Regions from separate parts of the Homo sapiens genome. Here regions 2 and 3 are each reported to be linked to region 1. The links are microRNA targets in miRTarBase. Many come from high-throughput screens and were not tested one by one. Region 1 holds a microRNA gene; each other region holds the end of a gene's coding sequence.

Region 1 (4,133 bases):
GCCACTGCCAGCTTAGGTTACCGCTCCAACTTTCTCCCCGGGCCCTGCCTCCCTGGAGAAACTTTATTACACTCACTTCCGGCCTCACTAACCCCTGACCCTCTACCTCAGGGTCCCTCCTTCACGCTTCCCACTTTCCCGAGTTAGCCAATGGCAGCGCGAGATCGCGCACAAAGGCAGTGGTGGCCAATAAGACGCCTACTTTTGACCCACGCTCGTTCTTGAGAAGCGTGAGAACTGCCCTCCAATAAGGATCCGAAGAGAAGTAAATCTAAGCCAATCGGAGGCTTGAAAGTAGAGGTGTCCCGCCTCGAGCCAAACGGACCAATAGGAAGTGCGGGCGGCGTGTTTGAAAGCGAGGCCAAAGTGGGTGGGAGCGCGTGCTGTTGGGAGTTGCTTGGAGGTTGGCGGCGCGGGGCTGAAGGCTAGCAAACCGAGCGATCATGTCGCACAAACAAATTTACTATTCGGACAAATACGACGACGAGGAGTTTGAGTATCGGTTAGTGCTGGCGCGGGAGCAATAGCGAGGGTCGTGAGCTTTGGCCGCTGAGGGCACAAGGAATTAGTAACAGGAACTGAGGCGATAGAATTGGCGCATGCGTACGAGGTGCGAACGGGCAATGGTGTGATATTGTGGAAGGCGTAAGGCGCATGCGCGGAGGTGGGAGGCGCTCGTAAAACAAAGTGGTTGCGAATTTGGAGTCGCCTCTCAGTAGAGAGGAGAGAGGGGTGGGCGTGGTTAGGGTACTGACCACCCTCACCCATGAGGCTTTCTGGATCATTCTCTGAACTTTATCGGGCAAACTTAACTTGCCTTGTAGAGACTGTTTCACAGTAATCTTGTCGAATCCAGTGGGAGAACGTAGCAAAAGCGGAGCTGGAAGTTTCCTGGCGTCCCTAACAGGAGAGTAGCGCTGAGAGAGTTGAATATTGCTTATTAACTCGTGAAAAAGACAAGGGGCGTGGTTGTCTGGCTTGTGTAAGGAAGGGGATCGCTTGGGACTGCAATGGAATAAAACTGGCTAGGAGCATTGAGAAAATACTTAATATGGGTCTAATAGATGCCCTTTAAATATCAAAGGGAACAGTTACGGAATACTTAACAGGTTTCAGGTGTTCTGCTAAAGTGCAAGGATAACACATGGTCTCTGCTGTTCACAAATTTAAAAATCTGTGGGTGGTACCGACAGACACCAGAAAGGTGACACACGCTATGCAAGGAGCCATTACAGGGTGTGATGGGAGCACACAAGACTTGCTAAGGAGAGGGAACTGGCGACCCGAAGGCTGCGGCTTCCTAGCTGTGAGCGGGGGTTGAGGTGGGGCTAGAAAGTCAGTCCCCTACTTTTGCTAACTCCAGGACGCTCCCCCATCCCACGCTTCGAGAACGCCCCCCGCCCCGCCACCGCCTTGGAGGCTGACCTCTTACTTTCGGTCGGTCTTCTTCCCTGGGCTTGGTTTGGGGGCGGGGGAGTGTCCTAAGGGCCAATTCAGCGTGATGTCTCTTTCACCACCATTGAAAACGAAACCAGTAGTAAACTACGCGTGTTTTCATTTATATGTCGGAGATAAAAACACAGGGACAGAAAGAGGGGAACAACAGACATTGGGGCCTGCTTGAGGGAGGAGGGTGGGAGGAGGTAGAGGTTCAGGAAAAAAAAAAACTGTCGGGTACTATGCTTAGTACCTGGGTGATGAAATAACCTGTACACCGAACCCCCGAGTCAGGATTTTACCTATATAACAAACCTGCACATGTACCCTTGAACATGAAACTTAAAATACTGAGAGGAAAAACGGAAGAGGGAATGTTGGGGAAAGCTTCCTAGAGGGCAGAGCCTGAGATGAGACTCTAAGAAAAAGGTATGTGGGAGGAAGCACCTCTTGACTGAAATTGTTTAGAAGACACTGGATAGCCATCTGCCAAGGATGGTGATGATGGAATCCTGGCACTGGATGTGGCATTCGGGCTTGATAAATTTTAAGTGCATAATCTAGATTGGGAATAAGGGAAGACACAGGATTCCACAAATGTTGGCATTATGCTAATCTGTATTAATTGTAATAATTAAGACCACTTCCTGGTTTGTATCTTGTCTCCTCAGTTGGAGAACATAAAATGAAAACTTGCTTTTCTTGTGTCTCTTCACCCAGCCTAGTTCAGGGCTTTGGGTCTTCCAGAGAACTCGATGTGCATTGACAAATACATAATCATCTTTATGCCAAGACGGCTCCAGACCCTCCTTTAATTAACTTTCTTTTCCTCAGCTGTTTTCCTCTACATCTGAACTAAACTAACTTAAAACTGTATGTGCTTATAAGAGATTTGTGGAGCTGGGAAGGAATCACCATTTCATCCCCTGGAAGATGAAACTCTTGGCAGTGGCACTTTGGTTTAAGAGGGGTTTTTTGGTGTATGTATTGAAGCCAAATTTCGTGCCAGGGTGGTGTTAGAATGTGAGCTATTTTCATTATATTTGGACTAGAATTTTTTCTTTTAGGAGAATGGTGGGGAATCACTGTTACTAGCACAGAGGGAGAACTTAGTACATTTTCATTGAGCATGACGAAGACTATGTGGATTAGTTTGATTCACATCAGGGTAATAATTTTTTTGCTATGAAGGGAGACTTATCCTTGGTTAGAAAAGCACGGAATTTACCCAGAAAGTCTCAAGGTACATCCCTCCAGAGTTAGGAAAATAAGATTCAGGATAGATTTAATTTTTTTTTTAAGAGACAAGGTCTTGCTTTGTTGCCCAGACTGGAGTGCAGTGGCTATTCACAGGCACAACCATTGTGCATTGCAGCCCTTTCTTTTTTCTTATTTTTTTTCTCTTTTTTTGAGACGGAATCTCACTCTATCGCCCAGATCTCAGCTCACTGCAACCTCCGCCTCCTGGATTCAAGGGATTCTCTCCTGCCTCAACCTCCCAAATAGCTGGGATTACAGGTGCATGCCACCACACCCGGCTAATTTTTGTATTTTTAGTAGAGACGGGGTTTCACGTTGTTGGTCAGGCTGGTCTCCAACTCCTGACCTCAAGTGATCCACCCACCTCAGCCTCCCAAAGTGCTGGGATTACAGGCATGAGCCACCGCCCCTGGCCTATTTCTTCTGTATTTTAATCAGATTTCAAACTTCATACTGTATCTTTTTCAAACTCCTGGGTTCAAATGACCCTCCTGCCTCAGCCTCCCAAGTAGCTGGGACTGTAGGTTTGTGCCACCATGCCTGGCTTAGATTTTAAAGGACAAGATAGTTCATTTCATCCTTTGTAATAACTTGTCCACACAGTACTTCATAAAAGGCCTTTCCTCGCCACAAAATAACTTCTCTTCCTTCCTTCTAATTATTAACACTGTGTGCTCCGTGGGGCTCCCATTATGTTGTAGATAATCAACTAGAAGACTATAAGGTCCATGAAGGCGGAGAAAATGTGCCTTGAACTTAAGTGCTCATTCACTGGAATTATTCACTAATTTGTATTTTTAATATACTCTCGGAATTTATATAACATAGCCTGTATTTCTAGCTGCTGCTACCCCACAATAAAATTATATAAACTCTGACATCAAAAACCAGTTTTTCTTTCCTTTCTTGGCCTTGTAAACAGGCATTTGTCTAAGAGACTGTATCTGGTACTAACATAAATTCCCCACTTCCCCGTTTCTGTTACAGACATGTCATGCTGCCCAAGGACATAGCCAAGCTGGTCCCTAAAACCCATCTGATGTCTGAATCTGAATGGAGGAATCTTGGCGTTCAGCAGAGTCAGGGATGGGTCCATTATATGATCCATGAACCAGGTCAGTGCACTGGCTAAAAACAACCATATAGAACTGCTACACTGAGAGAATGAAAGAATAAGATTGTATAACCCAAATAGGGAGATAGGAAATGGTTTACTGGTTCCTTCCCCCTCCAGTCGTGGGGGATTTTTTTAAAAAAAAACTAGTGACCAAAAATAAGACTAAAATATCTGGGAAGTTCAGAGACAACCTGTCACTGAAAAACCTCCTGTAATCTTTCATTCAATCAGAGGGTATTCTTTTTAAGGCCACATATAGCCTGATCATAGCCCCTGCCTCATTCTCCATCGAAAACATTCTTGGATGTGTTCTAAATAA
Region 2 (4,000 bases), not on the chromosome of region 1:
TTTGCCTCAGCCTCCCGAGTAGCTGGTATTATAGGCACCCACCACCATGCCCAGCTAATTTTTTTTGGATTTTTAGTACAGATGGCGTTTCCCCATGTTGGCCGGGCTGGTCTCACTAAACTCCTGACCTCAAGTGATCCACCCACCTTGGCCTCCCAAAATTCTGAGATTACAGGTTTGAGCCACTGCGCCCAGCCTTTAGTTGAGTTTCTTAAGCTTGTTTAGGGTTTAGCCTGTATGGCCAGCAGGGTGTAGGTGGGGGTGGTTTGTAAGCAGGGCTGTTTGCTTCAGAAGCAGCTGTGGAAACAGGACTGAATGCAGACATATAAAGAATATTGGGTAAATAACTTTTTAAAAAATTTAGAGATAGGATCCCACTATGTTGCCCAATCTGGTCTTGAAACCTAAACAATCTCTTATCCCAAAGTGCTGGGATTGCAGAAAGCTTAAGGCACAGTTTTACGTGGTAATGGTGGGCCATTTTTAGTTTCTTTTTTGTAGACGATCATGTCATCTAGGCTGGAATGTAGCGGTTCTGTCGAGCTAGGTGTAGCCTCCACTTCCTGGACTCAAGCATTTTTCCTCAGCTTCAGTAGCTGGGTCTATGCATGAATACCCCTTCTGGGGTAGATAGATAGTAGTACATAGAGTAGATAATTTTTTTGTGTTCAGGCGGCACCTTAAGGTTGGTGTAAAAATTCTTGGCCTTCTAAAGAGCTGGAATTAGACATGAGCTGTTGCACCTGGCCAATGGGACAATTATGTCTACAGGACTGAATCAGTATCTGATCTCTGGAGTTGTAAGGTCACTTTTTCTGAAACTGCCTCAGTCTCCTTGCAGGTTCTGGTCTGTAGATCTCCAGTGTGTGGGCTGAGCACAGCATGGGGACCTGATTTCCCACCGGGCAGTGACATAGTTTAAAGATTCTTAGTTCGAATTCCTAATAATGGGAATATAGGTTTCTGTGTATTGAAATGGGAATATGCATTTTTTTTTTTTTTAGAGTCTTGCTCTGTCACTAGGCTGGAGTGCAGTGGCACAATCTCGGCTCACTGCAACCTCCGCCTCCTGGGTTCAAGTGGTTCCCCTGCCTCAGCCTCCTGAGTAGCTGGGACTACAGGCGCCCTCCACCACGCCCTGCTAATTTTTTGTATTTTAGTAGAGACGGGGTTTCACCATGTTGGCCAGGATGGTCTTGATCTCCTCACCTTGTGATCCACCCGCCTTGGCCTCCCAAAGTGCTGGGATTACAAGCGTGAGCCTCTGCACCCAGCCAAGGGAATATGGATTCCTCTTTTTTTTTTTTTTTTTTTTTTTTTTGAGACGGCGTCTCTATCACCCAGGCTGGAGTGCAATGGCGTGATCTCTGCTCACTGCAACCTCTGTCTCCCGGGTTCAAGTGATTCTCCTGCCTCAGCCTCCCGAGTAGCTGGGATTACCCGCATGTGCTATCACGCCTGGTTAATTCTATATTTTTATTAGAGACAGGGTTTCTCCATGTTGGTCAGGCTGGTCTTGAACTCCCGACCTCAGGTGATCTGCCCTCCTTGGCCTCCCAAAGTGCTGGGATTACAGGTGTGAGCCACCACACCCTTTTTTTTTTTTTTTTTTTAAGATGGAGTCTCGCTCTGTCGCCCAGGCTGGAGTGCAGTAGTGCGATCTCGGTTCACTGCAACCTCTGCCTCCCAGGTGCAAGCGATTCTCCCGCCTCAGCCTCCCCAGCAGCTGGGACTATAGGTGCATGCCACCACACCCAGCTAATTTTTTGTATTTTTAGTAGAGATGGGGTTTCACTGTGTTAGCCAGGATGGTATTGATCTCTTGACCTAGTGATCCGCCCGCTTCGGCCTCCAAAGTGCTGGGATTACAGGCATGAGCCACCGTGCCCAGCCTAATTTTTGTATTTTTAGTAGGTTTCACCATGTTGGCCAGGCTGGTCTCGAACTCCTAACCTCAGCTGATCTGCCTGCCTTGGCCTCCGAAAGTATTTGGATTACAGGCATGAGTCACCGCATCTGGCGGTATTTTTGTTGAAAGCACAGTGTATAATAGGTTATGGCCAGCCTACACGTGGCCTTGTAGGTGTCAGTTCTTGGCAGGGCCCAGTGAATTCCAGGCAGGGGGCCATCCTGACATGCCTGCCACGTTAAGATTTCAGACATTATCCCCTCCAGCAAGGGAGGATCAGGGCTGTTGGCATAACAAGCATTCTGAGGGTTAGCTTGCATACCAGTCTCTTCCCAAATGCTGAGTTGCCCCATGTATCCTGTGACATTTGAGAATAGGCTTTCCTCAACTTGGCACAATTTGCCTTTGGACCAAGTGCTTTGTCCTGTGCATTCCTTGCTGGATGTTGGCATGCATTCCTAGTGTCGTCCACTAGATGGCAGTGGCACCCACCCCAGAGCTCAAATATTACTATGTTCCGATGCAGCCAGGGCTTGGCAGGGCTGGGTGGCCTCTGAGGGCCCCTACTGGCCATTTTTCACCGTCTCCCTCTGTTGCCCAGGCTGGGGCGCAGTGATGCAATGACAGCTCACTGCAGCCTCGACCTCCTGGGCTCAAGCGATCTTCCCACCTCAGTCCCCAGAGTAGCTGGGACTACAGGCATGTGCTGCTACTCCTGGGTAATTAATTGTACTAATTAATAGTAGTTGGCTAATTAGTAACAGTGGAGTCTTGCTATGTTGCTTAGGCTGGTCTCTAACTCCTAGACTTAAGCAACCCATCTTGCCTCCACCTTTGAAAGTACGGGGGTTACAGGCGTGAGACACCGCACCTGGCCCCTGTTGGGATTTACCCCTCCTGTTAGGGGCCATCAAACCTCTCTTAGTTGGTCATCCCTTAAAGCTCCGTCAAACTTTTTTTTTTTTTTTTTTTGAGATGGAGTCCCACTCTGTCGCCCAGGCTGGAGTGCAGTGGCGCGATCTCGGCTCACTGCAACCTCCACCTCCCGGGTTCAAGCGATTCTCCTGCCTCAGCCTCCTGAGTAGCTGGGACTACAGGTGCCCGCCACCATGCCTGGCTAATTTTTTTTTATTTTTAGTAGAGACAGGGTTTCACCATCTTGGCCAGGCTAATCTCAAACTCCTGACCTCGTGATCCACCTGCCTCGGCCTCTCGAAGTGCTAGGATTACATACATGAGCCACCACGCCTGGCCAGCTCTGTCAAACATTAATTTGATCCCAAGCAGAGGGACTTTTGATCTCAATCTGCATGAGTCTGTCTCTAGGAAGGAGGCTGATCATTATGCTGGGGGGGTGATGAGCACCCTCCCATCTTCCTCTGTCCAGATCTCAGGGGAGAGCCAGCAGATAGGACCATTCAGCAGCCAATGTCCAAATAAGGTTTTGTTACTCGAAGCGCTGCCAACCTACTGTGGGTCATTTTATTCAGGTCCATCCCAAATAACCTGTGGACACAAGAGTTGATATTATTCCAGTGTACTACTGTGGCATTCAATTAATAAGCCTTAAGTATCTATTGTGCACTACCGTGGTAAGATAATTCCATGATCCTCCAGAAATTCCACCCAACGCTGCTGGAAAGTAGGCTTACTACATGCTACATGCAAGTCCCCAAGCTGTGTTAACTGCATAATTTTTTTTTTTTTGAGACACAGTCTCATTCTGTCACCCAGGCTGGAGTGCAGTGGTGCAATCTCAGCTCACTGCAACCTCCACCTCCCAGGTTCAAGCGATTCTCCTGCCTCAGCCTCCCCAGTAGCTGGGACTACAGGCGCCCACCACCACGCCCGGCTAATTTTTTGTATTTTTAGTAGAGACAAGGTTTCACCCGTGTTAGCCAGGATGGTCCTAGTCTCCTAACCTCGTGATCCGCCCACCTCGGCCTCCCAAAGTGCTGGGATTACAGGTGTGAGCCACCACACCTGGCCAATTCATAATTTATCATAGCCTTATGAAGATGCAACTATGTTCTCCATTTTTTTTTTCTTTCCCCAAGATGGAGTCTTGCTCTGTTGCCCAGGCTAGAGTGC
Region 3 (4,000 bases), not on the chromosome of region 1:
CTTTGCTGAACGTTCAAGCCTTACCCAACATAAGAGAATCCATACTGGAGAGAAGCCTTACATATGTAATGAGTGTGGCAAAGCTTTTAAGCAGTGCTCACATCTCACTAGGCATCAGAATATACATCCTGGAGAGAAACCACACAAATGTAATGTGTGTGGCAGGGCTTTTATCCAAAGTTCAAGTCTTGTGGAACATCAGAGAATTCACACTGGAGAAAAACCTTACAAATGTAATAAATGTGATAAAGCTTTTATCAAACGTTCACACCTTTGGGGTCATCAGAGAACTCATACTGGAGAGAAACCTTACAAATGTACTGAATGTGGCAAAGCCTTTACTGAACGTTCAAATCTTACTCAGCATAAGAAAATCCATACTGGAGAGAAACCTTACAAATGTACTGAATGTGGCAAAGCTTTTACCCAATTTGCAAACCTCACTAGACACCAGAAAATACACATTGAAAAGAAACATTGTAAACATAATATACATGGTAATGCTTTATTCCAAAGTTCAAACCTTGGAGATCATCAAAAAAGTTATAATAGAGAAAAACATATCAAATATAATGAGACAAAAATTAAGTATTCAAGCTGTACCTAGCATCAGGGGCTCCATTGTGAAAAGAAACCATATAAAACGAAAATGTGGTAAAGCCTTTAGCTATGGCTTATGTCTCACTTGATACCAGAATATACATCTTTGAGATAAACCACACAAAGATAACATGTATGGCAAGGCTTATCCAAAGTTCAAGCCTTGTGGAACATCATAGAATTCTTACTGTAGAGAAGCCTTACAAATATAATGAATGTGAACAGCTTTATAAAAATATTTACCCTATTATGGTTATAACAGAAGACATTCAGGATGGAAACCATACAAATGTGGCAAGTCCTTTAAGCAATGTTCTGACTTCAGGATACACCATTCATATTGGAGAGAAGCATTACAAGTGAAGGTGGTAAATTATTTTAAATTTCTCAATGGAAATTCATCCTTATATGCAAGCATTTTGTCATACAAAAATTCAGGCTAGAGGGAACTAAGTCTTTTTTCCTTCTTGAAGATTAAGTGATTGATGTTAAATTCACAGACAATTTTAAAAAGTCACAAACTCATGGTGTGTGTCAGAGGAGCAAGGACATCTGTGGAAAGATGTAACTTCAGTGTTAAAAATTTTTTATTCAGTTATTTCATATTTTTAAAAGTATGAAATCTGTTGCTGTTAAATCTTCATGGCATGCTTTTCATTTATCATGATTGTCTCAAGGAATGGATGTAAGATGGAAGGGACTACTTCCTTAGGTGTGGCTTCTTTATATTACTGAAACCTGGAAAAAGCAAGAACACTAATTTTTTCTTTTTTTGGAGACAGAGTCTTGCTCTGTCACCCAGGCTGGAGTGCAGTGGCACCATCTCAGCTCACTGCAACCTCTGTCTCCCGGGTTCAAGCAATTCTCCTGCCTCAGCCTCACGAGTAGCTGGGATTACAGGCATGCGCCATCATGCCTGGCTAGTTTTTTGTTTTTTTGTTTTTGTATTTTTAGTAGAGACAGAGTTTCGCCATGTTGGCCAGGCTGATCTTGAACTCCTGACCTCAGGTGATCCACCTGCCTTGGCCTCCCAAAGTGCTGGGATTACAGGCATGAGCCACCGTGCCCAGCCAAGAACACTAATATACAATATACTATAAGAGCATGGGGGTTTGTGCCAGAAGAGAGGTAAAACTATTGTCTAACATATATGCTTTATGTGGTCAGGACCCCTTAGAATTGTTGATGTGACTGGGGACCTTTGTCGATTATAGGAGAGATTGGTTACAGTACAAGATGACCATGAAACAAGAAGAGTAGGGTGGGACATTGAGAGATTTTCATGGAAGTGAAATGGTCGGTTACTAGAGACTGCATATGTGGTAGAAAGAAATGGAGGGGGAATGATAGTCACCCTCTCTTGAAAGGTAGTTACTGTTGCATATCACAGATTATTGAACATAGATAGGTCTTATTTTTGGAAACTGAAGAGAGAATGGTTACCATAGAGGACAGTTCCATCAAAAGAACCAGAGTAGTGTTCTTATAGGGGATTCACATTTGGCCCCTGAGATTGCATTTGATACCATTTTATTTAGAATATATTATACTTCTTATGTCTTAATTAGTAAAATATAATCATTTTTAGTAACCCTGAATGAATCGTGTGCCTTCCGTCAACCCAAGCATATCCCACCTCATTGGGACACTTAATATCAAACACTATAATACATCATTAGACTCTCAAGGTTGAATGTCATCTATAACAATTTCTATCCATGTTATGTTCAAACAGTATACAATTTAAGAAGTATATATTCATAATTTGCACTTGAAATATTTTCTCCACACTCTGCCCTAGATGACTTCTATGGCTATAATGAAAATGCCATGCCATAGTGGGACAATATCAGACCCCCTGAAACCTGTCTTCCTGTTCATGAATATGCACTGTGCAGTTATATTTCTACATGCCTTTTTTTCTACATAACTTTATTTCTGCATGCCTTTTACATGAGAGGAAAATAACAAATGTAAGCATATGAAAATTATTAGTAAATGAAATTTCTGAAATAATAACACAACTTCTTTTTTTGTACTTGGAGCACTCCGTGAAATAATTTGAAAAAAATCAGTGTTCATGAGTTTCCCCTTAATAATGAACATAAGCAATGGATTTTTTTTTTAAAGAAACTAGAAACCTCATGTATTTACCCCCAAAACATTTTTTTTTACTGATTTGCACTTGTCGCCACTCCACTGGAACAGGAGGGAACCCCGTGCAAAGTTTGGTTTAGATTTCAGGATTGGTGGTACTCTACATCAAAGTATTATAAGAATGTTTATTACAAAAGGCTTTCTGGAGAGAACAGGGTAGACTTCCCAAGCTGGTTAAAAAATGGCTAGAGAAGGCAGTGAAAGATGATTGACTTGGGGTGTTATGATGTTTATCTGGTGGGGCTGGAGTGAATACTCATCTGTGGTTTAAATTTTCAGCTAGCCGGCTGGGCAGGGAGGCTGACATCTGTAATGTCAGCACTTTGAGAGGCCCAGGCGAGGAGATTGCCTGAGCCCAGGAGTTTGAGACTAGCATAGGCAATATGTCAAGACCCTGTCTGCAAATTTAGAAGTTAGTTGGGCATGGTGGCACATTTCTATAGTGCCAGCTACTCAGGAGGCTGAAGCAGGAGAATTCCTTGAGCTCAGGAGTTGGAGGTTACAGTGAACTAGGATTATGCCACTGCACTCCAGCCTAGGTGACAGAGCAAGGCCCTGTCCAAAAAAAAAATCAATTTCTAGGCCAGGCACAGTGGCTCATGTCTGTAATTCTAACACTTTGGAAGGCCAAGATGGGCGGATCGCTTAAGCCCAGGAATTCGAGACTAGCCTGGGCAAACTGTCACTATAAAAAATACCACCCACCCAAAATTAACATTTGTTAGTACCTCATAACTTTTTTTTTTTTTTTTTTTGAGACAGAGTCTAACTCTGGTGCCTAGTCTGGAGTGCAGTGGCACAATCTCAGCTCACTGCAACCTCCACCTCCCAGGCTCAAGCGGTTCTCCTGCCTCAGCCTCTCGAGTAGCTGGGACTACAGGCATGCACCACCATGCCCAGCTAATTTTTGTATTTTTAATAGACACAAGGTTTCACCATATTGGCCAGGCTGATCTCGAACTCCTGACCTCAAGTGATCTGCCTGCCTAGGCCTCCCAAAGTGCTGGGATTACAGGTGTGAGCCACCATACCCAGCCTAATACCTCATCACTTTTTGTTGCTGAATAATATTCTACAGTTTGTCTGTCCATTCATTATTTGATGGAGATTTGAACTCTTTCTACTGTTTGAAATTAGGCTATTATGGGCCAGGTGCAGTGGCTGATGCCTGTAATCCCAGCACTTTGGGAGACCGAGATGGGCGGATCACGAGGTCAGGAGATCAAGGCCATCCTGGCTAACA

What was found. Region 1 holds the annotated microRNA hsa-miR-4258 (CCCCGCCACCGCCUUGG, at 1,401-1,417, shown strand). A microRNA usually pairs through its seed, bases 2 to 8, with sites in the 3' UTR of a target mRNA and lowers its output. Matches are read on the target gene's strand: a 7mer-m8 pairs with bases 2 to 8, a 7mer-A1 pairs with bases 2 to 7 and ends in A, and an 8mer does both.
Region 2: miRTarBase lists NLRP12 as a target of hsa-miR-4258. The part of its 3' UTR that is shown has no 7-base or 8-base seed match.
Region 3: miRTarBase lists ZNF677 as a target of hsa-miR-4258. The part of its 3' UTR that is shown has no 7-base or 8-base seed match.

Annotation. Positions count from the first base shown.
Region 1 is chr1:154,974,303-154,978,435 of GRCh38, forward strand. MIR4258 (microRNA 4258) reads left to right here and starts at 1,391; the gene lies at 1,391-1,481. It overlaps CKS1B (CDC28 protein kinase regulatory subunit 1B), which reads left to right and starts at 379. Exons shown (of 3, transcript NM_001826.3): 1 at 379-502; 2 at 3,685-3,812. The coding sequence starts at 444. It also overlaps a transcript of SHC1 not described here. RefSeq lists enhancers at 1-24, 475-624, 725-784 and a silencer at 115-204.
Region 2 is chr19:53,790,722-53,794,721 of GRCh38, forward strand. It overlaps NLRP12 (NLR family pyrin domain containing 12), which reads right to left. Exons shown (of 10, transcript NM_144687.4): 10 at 3,020-3,415. The coding sequence ends at 3,328. Among named protein-coding and RNA genes, the nearest start is that of MIR373, 4.0 kb to the left of the region's middle. RefSeq lists enhancers at 1,425-1,925, 1,926-2,426.
Region 3 is chr19:53,233,579-53,237,578 of GRCh38, reverse strand. ZNF677 (zinc finger protein 677) reads left to right here. Exons shown (of 5, transcript NM_182609.4): 5 at 1-2,198. The coding sequence ends at 607. Among named protein-coding and RNA genes, the nearest start is that of ZNF677, 19 kb to the left of the region's middle.